Regions from separate parts of the Homo sapiens genome. Here region 2 is linked to region 1. The links come from fine-mapping of genetic effects on gene expression. A gene starts in region 1. The other region holds a variant in brackets. All regions are shown on one strand. Distances are between the middles of the regions.

Region 1 (8,306 bases):
AAATAAAGATAACCTAACACCCTCAGGCATTTGCCTTACTCTTGGCTACAATGTCTACAAAATGTGAGTCTGTTACTTCCTAAGCCCAGCATTGAGCAACTGGGTCCATTTCATATGCAAAAAAAGTGAATGGTCTGGGATTTAAGTGAAAGCCCCGATATTAAAAATGCTTATCACTTGTATATGAAACTGAAACACAATATGTAAACCTCAGAAACTCGAATACTTTGTTCAAATGAATGCTTAAACCATATACTTAGAAAAGGCTATTCTCTGTTTCTAGGCAATTTCTTGGGTGATGCATAAAACATGTAGAGAGGGGAGGAAAAAGCTGGCTAATCTCCCAAATTATCACCAGTCTCATCTCACTGATCAAATGAAAAGATTATTGTACTTTGTGTATTCTTTTTGAACAGGAATTCATAAAATGTTTAATAGAGAAAATGATCCTTTGGGGTACATTATTAATAAAGTCTGCAGATCAAAGATGATGGTCTGATAGCATTTTGACTGGAATGTATAAAGAGGCAAAAAAATCCTAATGAATATTGAGGCAAATTTTGTATTTTAAATACTTGGTGAAGAAATAGTTACATGAATATTTCATGATAGTTCTGTATTTTCAAACTTTATTTTTCTGCTTACAAAATTAACATATGCCTAACATGGAAAACGTAGAAGGTATGGAGAGGTAAAAAAGGAGGAGAAAAATAGAAAAGAGAAGAATTATCAATAATTCCACCTCCCTGAGTTAACTGCTACTGATATTTTGGCATGTTTCCTTCCAGACTTTTATCTGTGCATTTATTTTTCTTAAATGCAGGGCAGATTATATCTATATATAATTTTGTATTCGTTTCTTTGTATTCTGTATTCTACCAAAGACATTTCCTCAAACCAATGAAAACTCTTTAATGGTTGCACACTATTTGACAGTAAGTATATGTTACATAGTATCATTTATTTAAATATTTTCTTCTATGCTGGATATTAAAGCTATGTCCCTTTTGGTTTTTATACTATTATAAATAATTCTAGAGATAATACCTTATTGTGTAAATCTTTGTTCTTATTTTTTATTGTTTCCTTGAGCTACGTTCCAGAAAGAAGAATTAGTAGATCAAAGAAGATGAACATTTTCAAGCCATTTGATTGATATTGCTAAATCCCAAATGATTATACAGAGTTACACTTTTTCAGGATGTATGCAATATATAACATATGGGAGATTACCTCCCTAAATGCTCAAGAGAAATATTACAAAGCTTGTAATCTTTATTAATTTTAAATTTTCTAGACTATTATCACATGTAGTGAATAAAGATTATCAAAAATTGCAGCTAACATGTTTTGAGTTGGCGAGAGTTACATAAAAGTGACCATTATTTTTTATATCAATAACTAATAATTTAAATAAAAACAGCCAATAAAGACAAGCACGGTCAAGTGCAGTCATGAGGAACCATCCAATGGAAGCTGTCTCATCTGAGTCCCACTGCCTGAGCCTAGTCACTTCAATAATTTAACCTGGGCTTGGAATCTAATTTTTTAAATTAAAGTTTTATGTCATGTTCATTGTACGATATTTGCAAAATGAATAATAGTTGAGGGAAGGGAGAAAATATCACCAACCAAAGATAACAATTACCATTTTAGTACATATTTTTATTTTATTTTTTAAAGTACTCCATTAGATTTATATACAGCCTCTTTCCTTTAGCATAAAACATACATTTTCCTATGCCATTAAAAAGTTTTATACTTATTTTTCTATTGCATGAATAATATCCCATTGTCCTATATCACATATCAGCATTTACATAACCTAACATAGACATTCAAGTTGTTTCCAAATATTAGAATATATATATTATAAATAAAGTTGTATCCCAGAGCTGCATAAAACTCTTTCAGACTTTAGTTTATTTCCTCAGTATAGATGTCCAGAGGCAGGAACACTAGGCCAAAAGATTTATGTTTTAAGGCTCTTGATATTTTTAAGCAGCATAATTTTTTTTGTATTTCCTGTAAAATATGTAAGAGTCTTCATTTCCAATTTATGGATGAGGAATTTCAGAAAGGAAAATAAATGCCCTATGTACATGAAACCAAGTAAACTAATGGAAAAATGAGAAAGAAATATTCAAACAGGTTTTTGATATCACAGAGATCCTGGACTCTGTAAGTATCTGAAATTGAACTGAAGATAAGGAACAAGCTGAGGTCACACAATTATTGTGGGACAAAAATTGGAGTGGGTTTCTATGTTATGTGAGAGCAAGTTCATTGCAAGATTTCTTTAACCATGAAGCAAAAGAGGAAATACCAATTATAACCACATATACTTCATGAGATATGCTAAATGAGCAAAATAATGATTTGCATATGAACAAGGGAAAAACACACTTTATATGGAAACTATACACACACACATACACACACACAGATTTCAATAGAATGTATTTAGAGAACTTATGATTCATTAAGAGTAGGGAGAGACCACAAAAATGGGCAAATGACATTAATGGGCAATTTATAAAATGATAAAATTAGTAATAAAATATTTACTCTTATAAATCAACAAAATACAAAGGAAGTCAACAATGTGTATTTTTTACTTGTCAATTTGCCAAACACTTAAAAAGTGCTTTCATACACTGTTATTGGAAGTGTAGACTGATGTAATCTTTCTAGAGGGTAATTGGGCAATGTGTAGCAAGATCCTTACATTTTCCTCAGTTACTGACCCAGTAATTCCACTTCTTAGAGAAATAATTAAAGATTTGCAAAAAGCAAAAAAAATTATGTAGCTGGTTGCTCATCACAGCATTATTTGTAAAAATGAAAAAGCAGGAATTGACTAAATGACAGAATATTATTAGCAATTTCAACTGTTTTAAATAAATTGCTAATGCCATAGGAAAATTTCTGTAATACAATTTAAGTGAAATATTTCAGAAATAGTGCTGCATACATAATCAGGTAGCTATCTGAAAACATTAATAGTACTTATCTCTAGGTGAAATTATTTGGTCATTTTAACATTTTTCTTAATAATTAGGATAATGTGATTTACCAAATGAGATACTATGAAAATGAAGGATATAGAATTTGTATTACAATTTTCTTTTTCCAATCACAAAACATGACATGTCTATTTGTATATCTCATGCATTGTGTTAGGAAATGTTTGCTAGATATTTATTCATTTATTCAAGGATTATTAGAGGATTATGATTATTCAGTGATAAATTTCAGTGGTCTTTATTATTCTCATCTCATGGTGGTATATATGAGTAGCAAGGAAGGAGAAGCCAGCTGCATTGGTCTTAAAAAGAAACCATTCAATTTAGACAATCTAAATTATAATAATCAGTTCCTCTTCCCACTTTACACTCACCTATCATATCCCAGCCCTCCAGGAACCAGCATCCCCAAAAGATAAAGGGTTTCAAGCAGAGGCTTCATTCTGCCACACAGTAAGTTAGAAAATTCTGGGCCTCTCTGGCAGTGGATCAAGTGTCCTTGAGAATGAATGCATCAAGACTGTGGCTCCCACAATCAAGATGAGATAAATCAGTTAGTGGATGTCTCAGCAGAAAGTCACGGGCAATTGCTTTATTAACTCTCTCATGTCCTCAAACACCTTTTCCAGTGTGGGAAATGCTGTACCATTTGATATTTCATTTCTTCTCTAAAACCAAATTTACGTGAGCTCTCAACTTCACCAGATCCTGAAATAAATTTCCTCCCTATGTAAAGTCACCTTGGAGTATTTCTAGGAACCCCCATCACTCGTGCTCAGGAGCAATCATTCCTGCTCTTCCCCTCACACAGGTTGAATGGGAATAGTAGGCTAGTCTTTGTGAATCATGAGCCTGTTCATGAGACCAGAAAGAACACTCTGCTCTGGTCAAAATGGACATGGTCATTATTCAGAATCTCCACTTCCTCCTTCAATCTAAGGCTTTGATTGGGGTCAAATGCCTTCTCTTTTTCTGATGAACCACATCACCAGCTTCTTAAACAAACCCAGATCTCTTCAAATCTGAGCAGTGAAGACAGTTTCAATCCTTTCCCATGTGGATTTTACCCCACGCCCCTCTTACATGAAGGACTCTGTCAGATACTCCGCCATGTTTTCAGACATAGCCAAGTTATGCTTGAATCTCATTGACCAGTAAAATTAAAGACTCATGTTAAGACCATTGCTAATAGTCTAACTGAGCAAGGCAAACTTTAGCGCAGAGCAGGTAGAGTATTTAAATGGAGTCCTTGGCATTTAGGGACCCAGTTTAAATCTTCTGCCCTGTATTCATGTATTCATTCTACAAAAATCTCATGAGTACCACTGTATACCAGACACTATGCTAGATACTTAAGATACAAGGGTGAACAAGGCAGAGTCCCTTCTTTTATGGAACTCACAGTAGAGTTGAGAGAAAAATAAACGAGTATACAAACAAATGTTACAGTTTCAAGTAAAGAGAATGCAGTTAAAAAACTAGAGGAGATAAGCGCTTCCATGCTGTCTCCAGGCATGCCATCCACCCAGTCCCTCCATGTGTTTAGCAACCCAGAGGCTCTCCAAACTCTGTTCCCTTGTGTTTTTATGAAGACTTCATTACATAGGTATGATTGATCATATCATTGGTCATTGGTGATTAAATAAATCTCCAGTCCCTCTTTCCTCCCCAGAGATGGGAGGGGATTACTGAATAACATGGCTGATTCTCCTGGCAACCAGCCGCTATCCTTAGAAACTTTCCAAAAGTTACCTGTTCACTTAAACTTAGACATAGTCAAAAGGGACGTCATGAATAACAAAAATGGCCCTTTCACCTTTATTGATCTTATCACTGAGGAAATTCCAAGGGTTTTAGGAGCTCTGTGTCAGGAACCAGGGACAAAGACAAAATATGTATTTCCTATTGTATCACAATATCACGATGGTGTTTAAAGCCACTGGGCTAGAGGAGTTCATCTAGGGTGTGGGTATAGACAGAGAAAGACAAAGACTGAGACCTGGGCTGACCTAACATTTAGAGGACTTGGTAGAAGAGAAGAATCCAGCGAGGGAATTGTGAAGAACAGCCAGTGAGGTAGTTAAAAAATGGGTGACTATTGTGTCCCAGAAGCCAAATGAGGAAAGCATTAAAAACAAAAAAAATGGGAGTTACCCACTGGTCAAACGAGGACGAAGAACTAACCAATCATAACCAGCAGGATAGAGGCTCCTGGAGACCTTGAAAAGAGCAATTTCAGTAGATAACGTGGTGGGGACAAACGCCTGCCTGGAGCTGGTTAAAGAAGGAAAGGGAAGTGAGAAAGTGGAGGCGGTGAGTATAGAAAACTCAGCATAGCTTGCCTACGATAATGGCACCTTAAAGAAAACTGCATTGTTAGCATTTTGCATCCTTCCCTTGGGATTTAGTTAATTCAAAAATCCTGAATTTGAATTTTGCTGTTCAGAATGAGGGGTAAAATGCAACACTCATGCCACTCTCTTCCTCACCCAAGTGAGGGGACTGGCAGGAACCTTGGTAGTACTAATTTTGGAGCAAGGGTTCTAATGGTGCTGTCAGTTCCACAGAAAGAGAGGGGGACCTGGAAGTTAAGGGTGTCATCTTTCCATACTCTTGCTAATTGGAATGGGCTGAGATGGATTCATGGCAAAGGGACGTATGGGTAGTCTAAATAAAAAGAAAGACTGCAAAAGGCTTCCCCTGCTACCAATATGTAGTTCCATACAGTTATTCTGAAACAAAAGAATATAAATAAAAGTTTAAAAACACATAAAAATGTAGTCAAATAATACACACAAATTGTTAGTAAAAACCTGCAAATAATTTTTTAAATGTGTTGTGAGGACATTTGATATTACTACACAGGATTTTCTTAACTGTCACTGATAATTGGATTTTCCTCAATCCCCACGTCCAATTTCACTGTAATATGTGGTCTCCTGCCAACCCCCCTGGCCAAAGATTATCTTTCTGTAACCTTATGGAATGCAAGCAGTAACCCAGGGAACTCAGGGCCAATGAAGTGGAACCATGGGCTCCTCACTAACAAGGGTGAATTATTATCACATCTTTCCTGGTGATTAGATTATTTCTTATCGTTGTGTTTTATAGCTTTCTAGTTAGTCATCTCCACACAATTTATTCACAATAATAGTGTTTTATTATTGCTGTTTTATAGTTCCTATAACAGTAAAATTTGTTCTCAACTCTATTATTACAATATTCAACTACTAATGGATATTCTTATTTTTATTTGATTGTGTTTTAAAGCCATAACAATAAAATTTACTCCCAAAAATATTACTGCAAGTTTTATGCTCTTTAAACTACTTGATAGAATGCCTGCAAACACATGTGGTCCTTTAAGCCACATGAGAGAAAGCCTGCCAACACATAAACATTGTTCTAGGGGAAAAAGGGGGGGGAATTGGTTTCAATTATGGTGAAACTTGCGTTCTTTGATGGAGTAAGTAATGGGATGAAAGAAATGAAAGGACCTTAGAGATAGCTGATTTCAAAGAGAATTATATTCTAATTGGTAGAATTATTTGTTTAAAAAATCAACCTCTTTTTATTACCTGCCAAGCCCTACACATTTCCACCGACTTCATCCTCCAAAATAATGTGCTCTCAAAAGGCCCAAGATTTCTCTGGGCTCAAAATTGCATGGCTTGTTGCCACATTAGTTGGATAGAGGCTGCTATGAAATATTATTACCAAAAGCCAGGGTCATGTTGAAGGTGAACAGCTTCAGTGACTTAAGAACTGGAAGGCACACAGCCAAGTCAGGTCACTACCTCTGCTGCTTGTCAGTTGCTCTCATTGACCCTGAACCCAAGGACATTGCAATAAACTTCATCACTTGCTTGGTGTGCATTGTTTGTGCCTGGAACACTGAATCAAAGGGACTATAACATGAATTATGACCCACCTAGTGGAGCAAAGTACCAGTGGGATTCAAATAATTGGTATATCAGACTGGCAGCAATTAAGGTGTGGTTAAGGGCTTGGTCTCAGATGGATAATACATTGACTTATGGTCACAAGGAGAGCTGGAGGCAGGTTGGGTGGAGATATAAGCTGGTTGACACTCAGAACTTACAGCCTTACTAGCAGAAGAGGCAAAATCTAGATTTGATTTCTGAGGCAGCACCAAGGAGAGGTTCTTCTGACAGAAGCTTCAGCAGATTGCTGCCATCATCTAAAGCAAGAAATGAGCAGATGGATAGATGGATGGATGGATGGATGGATGGATGGGTGGATGGATGGATGGATACATGGGTCCACAGATGCACGGATGCATGGATGAATCTGTATCTATGTTCTAGTCAGATGGCATAAATCCACTGACTAGATGTAGCCCTCATATACACAGGTAGGGACTTAGCTTGCTGTGACCATCTTCTTTCCTTTGCCCAGCTGTGGAAGTGTGCAAGTCAGCTCTACCTTCAAGAAAGAAACCGCTGTCAATTTCTCGCTATGGGTAGCTTCAGAATCTGACTCTGTATTCAAGCTGGGACTATGTGCTACCTGGACATCCTCTAACCAATGACTGAGCACAGAACTGGCATAAATGCTCACCATTGAACCAATGCAAGGTGCCTCTAGGAGCAAATTTCTTGTGGCTGTACCACAGTCTGAGGCCTTTCTGGCCAATCTTCCTTTCCTCCTTCTATCTTTTCACAGGTGTCAGATCTGGGTGTAAGGCTCTCCTTGCTTTCTCTTGCTTTTTCTCCCCTTTATCTTTCACAAAAATTACACCCCTAAAATCTCTTCTACTTTCAACTCCATCTTGGTATCTGCTTTTCAGATGATCCAGCCAACACACCAGCCAGATCCCAGAAAACATGAAAATAAATGAATGTAATTGATCTTGAGCTATGTGGATCTTTCTGAAACTTTGTGGATAATTAAATTCAGAAACAAAACTGAAGTTTGGAAGTAACAGGGATAATCCTACATGGCTAGGCCTTAACAGGCTTGTGACACCCAGCCAGAAAGCTACAGAAAATTACATGGTAGCTTAGTAACATTCCTTACCAGTTGGCTTTTTGAAAAAAGTGTTTTCTCTTTCACTGCTTGCTCACCCTGGCCAACATGTGGTAGGCGCAGGGTCCTCAGCCTTTCCGTGAAGACGATCAACGTTGCTCTTTCCCACGTGCTGATGTATTTTCTATTTGGATCATCTGGGGAGGGAAGAGGAGCAAAGACGAAATGTACACTCTCAAGTGCTAAGAGTAGAGATGGAGGGTGAGGAAATGGAGGAGGTTTTAAAGAGGA
Region 2 (8,337 bases), 130 kb after region 1:
AGAAAATGACTGCACCCAAAGCACATCTCTCAGACAAGATTCTTAATGAGTTCCATCCAGATTCTTAACGAGTTCAGGGAGCATTTTGTGGAGACAAGCAAGTCTATTGGCTTGTTCTTTTTTTTTTTTTAACTTTTATTTTTGATTAGGGGGTACATTTTCTGTCCTGTTTCACAGCAACTTCCTGAGGTCAAAGGAACATTAGTTGTTTTCCTGCCCTTGAACGATAGCCTTCAAAAAGGATGTACGTATGGCCTAAACCTTTGATGGACATAAATTATGATATGCAACATAATCAGAGAAATATGGTGAAGAAACATTAAAAGAGGAAAACTCTGCTTGGCTTCTGAGGACTTTGTTTATTCATACACTCCGTCATTTGTTCACTCAGCATTTACTGACAGCCAAATATATGCTGCTTCAGTAAAGAAAGGGAAGAATCAGACACATATTTACTCCTGAAGAGTTCCCCAGTTTACTGGGGGAAGATACAGCCCTTTCTCTCTATCCCTCACTGCATCTAAGGGTCATGGGAACACAGAAATGGCAAAGACTAACCACAAATGGGGCAGGAACACGTGAGGAGAGAGAACTCAGGAAAGTGTTGTTCAATCTACACTCATATAGGAGAATCTTTCCAGGTGAAGAGGTGGCAGGGATTCCTCAGAGTACAAAGCATGTGAAAAGGCTCCGAAAGATGAAATCTGAATGCTGGGGAAGACCTCTGAGTAGCTGGAGCACAGAATGCCAAAGACGGAAAATAATGACCAAGGAGTCTAAAAAGTGGGTCAGGCCCAACTGGACAGTATGTGCATAAAAAATGAGGAGTCTCATGCCTGTAATCCCAGCACTTTGGGAGGCTGAGGTGGGTGGATCACCTGAGGTCAGGAGTTCGAGACCAGCCTGACCAATGTCAGGCCTCTGAGCCCAAGCCAAGCCATCGCATCCCCTGTGACTTGCATGTATATGCCCAGATGGCCTGAAGTAACTGAAGAATCACAAAAGAAGTGAATATGCCCTGGCCCGCCTTAACTGATGACATTCCACCACAAAAGAAGTGTAAATGGCCGGTCATTGCCTTAACTGATGACATTACCTTGTGAAAGTCCTTTTCCTGGCTCATCCTGACTCAAAAATCACCCCCACTGAGCACCTTGCGACCCCCACTCCTGCCCGCCAGAGAACAAACCCCCTTTGACTGTAATTTTCCTTTACCTACCCAAATCCTATAAAACGGCCCCACCCTTATCTCCCTTCTCTGACTCTCTTTTCGGACTCAGCCCGCCTGCACCCAGGTGAAATAAACAGCCATGTTGCTCACACAAAGCCTGTTTGGTGGTCTCTTCACACGGACGCGCATGAAATTTGGTGCCGTGACTCAGATCGGGGTACCTCCCTTGGGAGATCAATCCCCTGTCCTCCTGTTCTTTGCTCCATGAGAAAGATCCACCTACGATCTCAGGTCCTCAGACCGACCAGCCCAGGGAACATCTCACCAATTTTAAATCAGGTAAACGGCGTCTTACTCTCTTCTCCAACCTCTCTCACTGTCCCTCAACCACTTTCTCCTTTCCACTCTTCAATCTCTCCCTTTTCTTAATTTCAATTCCTTTCATTTTCTGGGAGAGACAAAGGAGACACGTTTTATCCGTGGGCCCAAAACTCCGGCGCCGGTCACGGACTGGGAAGGCAGCCCTCCATTGGTGTTTAATCATTGCAGGGACGCCTGATTATACACCCACGTTTCAAGGGTGTCAGACCACGTAGGGATGCCTGCCTTGGTCCTTTACCCTTAGCGGCAAGTCCCGCTTTTCTGGGGAAGGGGCAAGTACCTCAACCCCTTCTCTCCTTGTCTCTACCCCTTCTCTGCTTTTCTGGGAGAGGGGCAAGTACCCCTCAACCCCTTCTCCTTCACCCTTAGCGGCAAGTCCCGCTTTTCTACAGGGCAAGAACCCCCAATCCCTTATTTCCACACCCCAACCTCTTACCTCTGTGCCCCAATCCCTTATTTCCATACCCCAACCTCTTATCTCTGCACCCCAATCCCTTATTTCCACACCCCAACCTCTTATCTCTGTGCCCCAATCCCTTATTTCTGTGCCCCAACCTCTTATCTCTGCACCCCAACCCCTTTTCCCACTTTTCTGGAAGGTAAGAACTCCTGAACCCCTTCCCTCCGTTTCTCTACTCTCTCTTTTCTCTAGGCTTGCTTCCTTCACTATGGGCAACCTTCCACCCTCCATTCCTCCTTCTACTCCCTTGGCCTGTGTTCTCAAAAACTTAAAACCTCTTCAACTCACACCTGACCTAAAACCTAAATGCCTTATTTTCTTCTGCAATGCCGCTTGACCCCAATACAAACTCAACAGTAGTTCCAAATAGCCAGAAAATGGCACTTTGAATTTTTCCATCCTGCACAATCTAAATAATTCTTGTCGTAAAATAGGCAAACGGTCTGAGGTGCCTGACGTCCAGGCATTCTTTTACACATCAGTCCCTTCCTAGTCTCTGTGCCCAGTGCAACTTGTCCCAAATCTTCCTTCTTTCCCTCCCGCCTGTCCCCTCAGTCCCAACCCCAAGCGTCGCTGAGTCTTTCTAATCTTCCTTTTCTACAGACCCATCTGACCTCTCCCCTCCTCGCTAGCCCAAGCTAGGTCCCCATTCTTCCTCAGCCTCCGCTCCTCCACCCTGTAATCTTTTTATCGCCTCCCCTCCTCACACCTGGTCCGGCTTACAGTTTCGTTCTGTGACTAGCCCTCCCCCACCTGCCCAGCAATTTACTCTTAAAAAGGTGGCTGGAGCTAAAGGCATAGTCAAGGTTAATGCTCCTTTTTCTTTATCCCAAATCAGAAGCGTTTAGGCCCTTTTTCATCAAATATAAAAACCCAGCCCAGTTCATGGCTCGTTTGGCAGCAACCCTGAGACACTTTACAGCCCTAGACCCTAAAAGGTCAAAAGGCCGTCTTATTCTCAATATACATTCTATTACCCAATCTGCTTCCAACATTAAATAAAACTCCAAAAATTGGAATCTGGCCCTCAAACCCCACAACAAGACTTAATTAACCTCACCTTCAAGGTGTACAATAACAGAAAAAAGTTGCAATTCCTTGCCTCCACTGTGAGACAAACCCCAGACACATCTCCAGCACACAAGACTTCCAAACGCCTGAACCGCAGCAGCCAGGCGTTCCTCCAGAACCTCCTCCCCCAGGAGCTTGCTAAATGTGCTGGAAATCTGGCCACTGGGCCAAGGAATGCCCGCAGCCCGGGATTCCTCCTAAGCCGCGTCCCAACTGTGTGGGACCCCACTGAAAATCGGACTGTTCAACTCACCTGGCAGCCACTCCCAGAGTCCCTGGAACTCTGGCCCAAGGCTCTCTGACTGACTCCTTCCCAGAACTTCTCGGCTTAGCGGCTGAAGACTGACACTGCCCGATCGCCTTGGAAGCCCCCTAGACCATCACGGATGCTGAGCTTCCGGTAACTCTCACAGTGGAAGGTAAGCCAGTCCCCTTCTTAATCAATACGGAGGCTACCCACTCCACATTACCTTCTTTTCAAGGGCCTGTTTCCCTTGCCTCCATAACTGTTGTGGGTATTGATGGCCAGGCTTCTAAACCTCTTAAAACTCCCCAACTCTGGTGCCAACTTAGACAATACTCTTTTAAGCGCTCCTTTTTAGTTATCCCCACCTGCCCAGTTCCCTTATTAGGC[T/C]GAGACACTTTAACTAAATTATCTGCTTCCCTGACTATTCCTGGACTACAGCTAAATCTCATTGCCACCCTTCTTCCCAGTCCAAAGCCTCCTTTGCGTCCTCCTCTTGTATCCCCCCACCTTAACCCACAAGTATAAGATACCTCTACTCCCTCCTTGGTGACCGATCATGCACCCCTTACCATCTCATTAAAACCTAATCACCCTTACCCCACTCAATGACAATATCCCATCCCGCAGCATGCTTTAAAAAGATTAAAGCCTGTTATCACTCGCCTGCTACAGCATGGCCTTTTAAAGCCTATAAACTCTCCTTACAATTCCCCCATTTTACCTGTCCTAAAACCAGACAAGCCTTACAAGTTAGTTCAGGATCTGCGCCTTAGCAACCAAATTGTTTTGCCTATCCACCCCGTGGTGCCAAACCCATATACTCTCCTATCCTCAATACCTCCCTCTACAACCCATTATTCTGTTCTGGATCTCAAACATGCTTTCTTTACTATTCCTTTGCATCCCAGCCTCTCTTCGCTTTCACTTGGACTGACCCTGACACCCATCAAGCTCAGCAAATTACCTAGGCTGTACTGCCGCAAAGCTCACAGACAGCCCCATTACTTCAATCAAGCCCAAATTTCTTCCTCATCTGTTACCTATCTCGGCATAATTCTCATAAAAACACACGTGCTCTCCCTGCCAATCGTGTCCGACTAATCTCTCAAACCCCAGCACCTTCTACAAAACAACAACTCCTTTCCTTCCTAGGCATGGTTAGCGCGGTCAGAATTCTTACACAAGAGCCAGGACCACACCCTGTAGCCTTTCTGTCCAAACAACTTGACCTTACTGTTTTAGCCTAGCCCTCATGTCTGCAAGCAGCGGCTGCCACTGCTTTAATACTTTTAGAGGCCCTTAAAATCACAAACTATGCTCAACTCACTCTCTACAGTTCTCATAACTTCCAAAATCTATTTTCTTCCTCATACCTGACGCATATACTTTCTGCTTCCCGGCTCCTTCAGCTATACTCACTCTTCGTTGAGTCTCCCACAATTACCGTTGTTCCTGCCCCAGACTTCAATCCGGCCTCCCACATTATTCCTGATACCACACCTGACCCCATGACTGTATCTCTCTGATCCACCTGACATTCACCCCATTTCCCCAGATTTTCTTCTTTCCTGTTCCTCACCCTAATCATGCTTGATTTATTGATGGCGGTTCCACCAGACCTAATCGCCACACACCAGCAAAGGCAGGTTATACTATAGTACAAGCCACTAGCCCGCCTCTTAGAACCTCTCATTTCCTTTCCATCGTGGAAATCTATCCTCAAGGAAATAACTTCTCAGTGTTCCATCTGCTATTCTACTACTCCTCAGGGATTATTCTGGCCCCCTCCCTTCCCTACACATCAAGCTCGAGGATTTGCCCCACCCAGGACTGGCAAATTAGCTTTACTCAACATGCCCTGAGTCAGGAAACTAAAATACCTCTTAGTCTAAATAGACACTTTCACTGAATAAGTAAAGGCCTTTCCTACAGGGTCTGAGAAGGCCACTGCAGTCATTTCTTCCCTTCTGTCAGACATAATTCCTCAGTTTAGCCTTCCCACCTCAATACAGTCTGATAACAGATGAGCCTTTATTAGTCAAATCAGCCAAGCAGTTTTTCAGGCTCTTAGTATTCAGTGAAACCTTTATATCCCTTACGGTCCTCCGTCTTCAAGAAAAGTAGAATGGACTGAAGGTCTTTTAAAAACACACCTCACCAAGCTCAGCCACCAAAAAGGACTGGACAATACTTTTACCACTTTCCCTTCTCAGAATTCAGGCCTGTCCTCGGAATGCTACAGGGTACAGCCCATTTAAGCTCCTGTATAGACGCTCCTTTTTATTAGGCCCCAGTCTCATTCCAGACACCAGACCAACTTAGACTGTGCCTACCTCCCCAAAAAAAAACTTGTCATACTCCTATTTTCTGTCTAGTCATACTCCTATTCACCGTTCTCAACTACTCATACATGACCTGCTCTTGTTTACACTGCCAGTTTACACTGTTTCTCCAAGCCATCACAGCTGATATCTCCTGGTGCTGTCCCCAAACTGCCACTCTTAACTCTTGAAGTAAATAAATAATCTTTGCTGGCAGGACTATGCTGAATCTCCTTAAGCACTCTCCAATCAGATATCCTGAGTCGTCCCAATTCTTAGACCTTTTATACCTGTTTTTCTCCTTCTGTTATTCCATTTAGTTTTTCAATTCATACAAAACCGTATCCAGGCCATCACCAATCATTCTATACGACAAATGTTTCTTCTAACAACCCCACAATATCACCCCTTACCACAAGACCTCCCTTCAGCTTAATCTCTCCCACTCTAGGTTCCCACGCCGCCCCTAATCCCGCTTGAAGCAGCCCTGAGAAACATCGCCCATTCTCTCTCCATACCACCCCCCCAAAATTTTCACCGCCCCAAAACTTCAACACTATTTTGTTTTATTTTTTTTATTAATATAAGAAGGCAGGAATGTCAGGCCTCTGAGCCCAAGCCAAGCCATCGCATCCCCTGTGACTTGCAGGTATACGCCCAGATGGCCTGAAGTAACTGAAGAATCACAAAAGAAGTGAATATGCCCTGCCCCGCCTTAACTGATGACATTCCACCACAAAAGAAGTGTAAATGGCCGGTCCTTGCCTTAACTGATGACATTACCTTGTGAAAGTCCTTTTCCTGGCTCATCCTGACTCAAAAATCACCCCCACTGAGCACCTTGCGACCCCCCACTCCTGCCTGTCAGAGAACAAACCCCCTTTGACTGTAATTTTCCTTTACCTACCCAAATCCTATAAAACGGCCCCACCCTTATCTCCCTTCTCTGACTCTTTTCTGACTCAGCCCGCCTGCACCCAGGTGAAATAAACAGCCATGTTGCTCACACAAAGCCTGTTTGGTGGTCTCTTCACACGGACGCGTGTGAAAACCAACATGGAGAAACCCCGTCTCTACTAAAAATACAAAATTAGTCGGGCATGGTGGTGCACGCCTGTAATCCCAGCTACTCAGGAGGCTGAGGCAGGAGAATCTCTTGAATCCGGGAGGCGGAGGTTGCGGTGAGCTGAGATCACACCATTGCACTCCAGCCTGGGCAACAAGAGCAAAAGAAACTCTGTCTAAAAACAAACAAAAAAGAGGAGTCCTGAATTGTTTAAATAAGGGAGAAGAATAACATTGATAACATTGTCAGATCTGGGTTTTAGGCAGAACCTTTTTATGGGTAGCAGAGACGACCAAAACAAGTACAAGTAGTCAATCAAAAGTCACCGATATGTCCAACAAGAGAGCCTGCTCTCCCCAGGACAGAGTGAAAGCCCAGTGGCCTCACAGGCACGAGTGTCTGGGAGCACTGCAGGAAGGAAGTCAGAATCCACTGGACTCCACAACTTCCTGATGAGTGAGAAAAATTCTGGAAAACTGTCAGCATTCTCTCAGAAGGTGAGCATACCGATTGCAGAGTATTTCTACCTTTCCAAGCTTGGCAATAGTACAAAAATGAGGTCGATTCTCTTCACTCTGTGTAACTCACACCACCAGATGCTGATGCCCTTAGACTCTTTCACAGCTACAGTTCCCCAAATCATTTATATCCAGAGGTCAGGCATATGGAGCTCATTAAATTCCATACAGCAACATTGTAACCATGTGAAACTTTTTGTTTGCAGTGCAATTTAATGTTGAATTTGATTTATGAGGCACTGCACATTCTTAGTCCTAGGATGACAGCATACACTTCTACAAGCTTAAGTCATGGTTTGGGGCAAGGGGGAAGGCCTTTGACCAGATGTTGGAATTGGAAATCTGGGCTTATGCTAAGCATTTGCGAAGAAGGGAGAGCACCACATCTTAGAGAAGGTCTATCCCAACTTGACTGTTATATCACTGAGGAAACCAAGACCTAGAGAATTTCTTTTCCTTTTTCTTTTCTTTTCTCTCTTTTTTTTTTTTTTGAGACAGGGTCTCCCTCTCTTGCCCAGGCTGGAGTGCAGTGGTGCGATCATGGCTCGCTACAGCTTCAACCTCCCAGCCTCGAGCAATCCTCCCACCTCAGCCACCTGAGTAGCTGGGATTACAGATGTATGCCACCAAGTCCAGCTAATTTTTGTATTTTTTTTGTAGAGACAGGGTTTCACGATGTTGTCCAGGCTGGTCTCGAACCCTTGGGCTCAAGCAATCTGCCCACCTCTCAAAGTGCTGGAATAACAGGCATCCTAGAGAATTTAAATGACAGAGGCAGTGGCTGGAACCCAGGTCTCCTGATTCTCAGCCCAGTGGCCCTCCTTCTCTCTCCCTTGCCTCTCTACTATTCAAAATACAAAAATGAAGAGAAAATGGGCCTTTCTTATTCATGCGGAAATTCATTCCAACTTGACAGAAAGGTACCCATGTAAAATGTATTGTTAACTTCATATCCTAGTATATAAATAAGAGAAAATCAATAAAGCATTTGTTTGAAAATGACTTGCTTTCTGTTTGGTTGGTACAAAGTTATATCATATATGATATATGGCTCTGGAATCAAATCTAAAAATTTAAATTACTTGCTCAAAGCCACATGGCT

Which allele goes with the higher level. Alleles are on the strand shown, and positions count from the first base shown. SD is a standard deviation of normalised expression in the study named.
As copies of C replace T in region 2, the expression in tibial nerve of the gene that starts at base 3,550 in region 1 goes down (small effect, 0.35 SD a copy in GTEx).

What was found. PIP is the estimated chance that this variant, and not a neighbour inherited with it, causes the effect.
Region 2: its variant is fine-mapped to the expression of CPO in tibial nerve (GTEx, PIP 0.98).

Annotation. Positions count from the first base shown.
Region 1 is chr2:206,934,762-206,943,067 of GRCh38, reverse strand. It overlaps CPO (carboxypeptidase O), which reads right to left and starts at 3,550. Exons shown (of 9, transcript NM_173077.3): 1 at 3,401-3,550. The coding sequence starts at 3,468.
Region 2 is chr2:206,805,202-206,813,538 of GRCh38, reverse strand. No RefSeq gene overlaps it. Among named protein-coding and RNA genes, the nearest start is that of MIR3130-1, 26 kb to the right of the region's middle. RefSeq lists enhancers at 755-1,372, 1,373-1,988, 5,979-6,806. The variant T/C (reference allele first, on the strand shown) is at 3,718.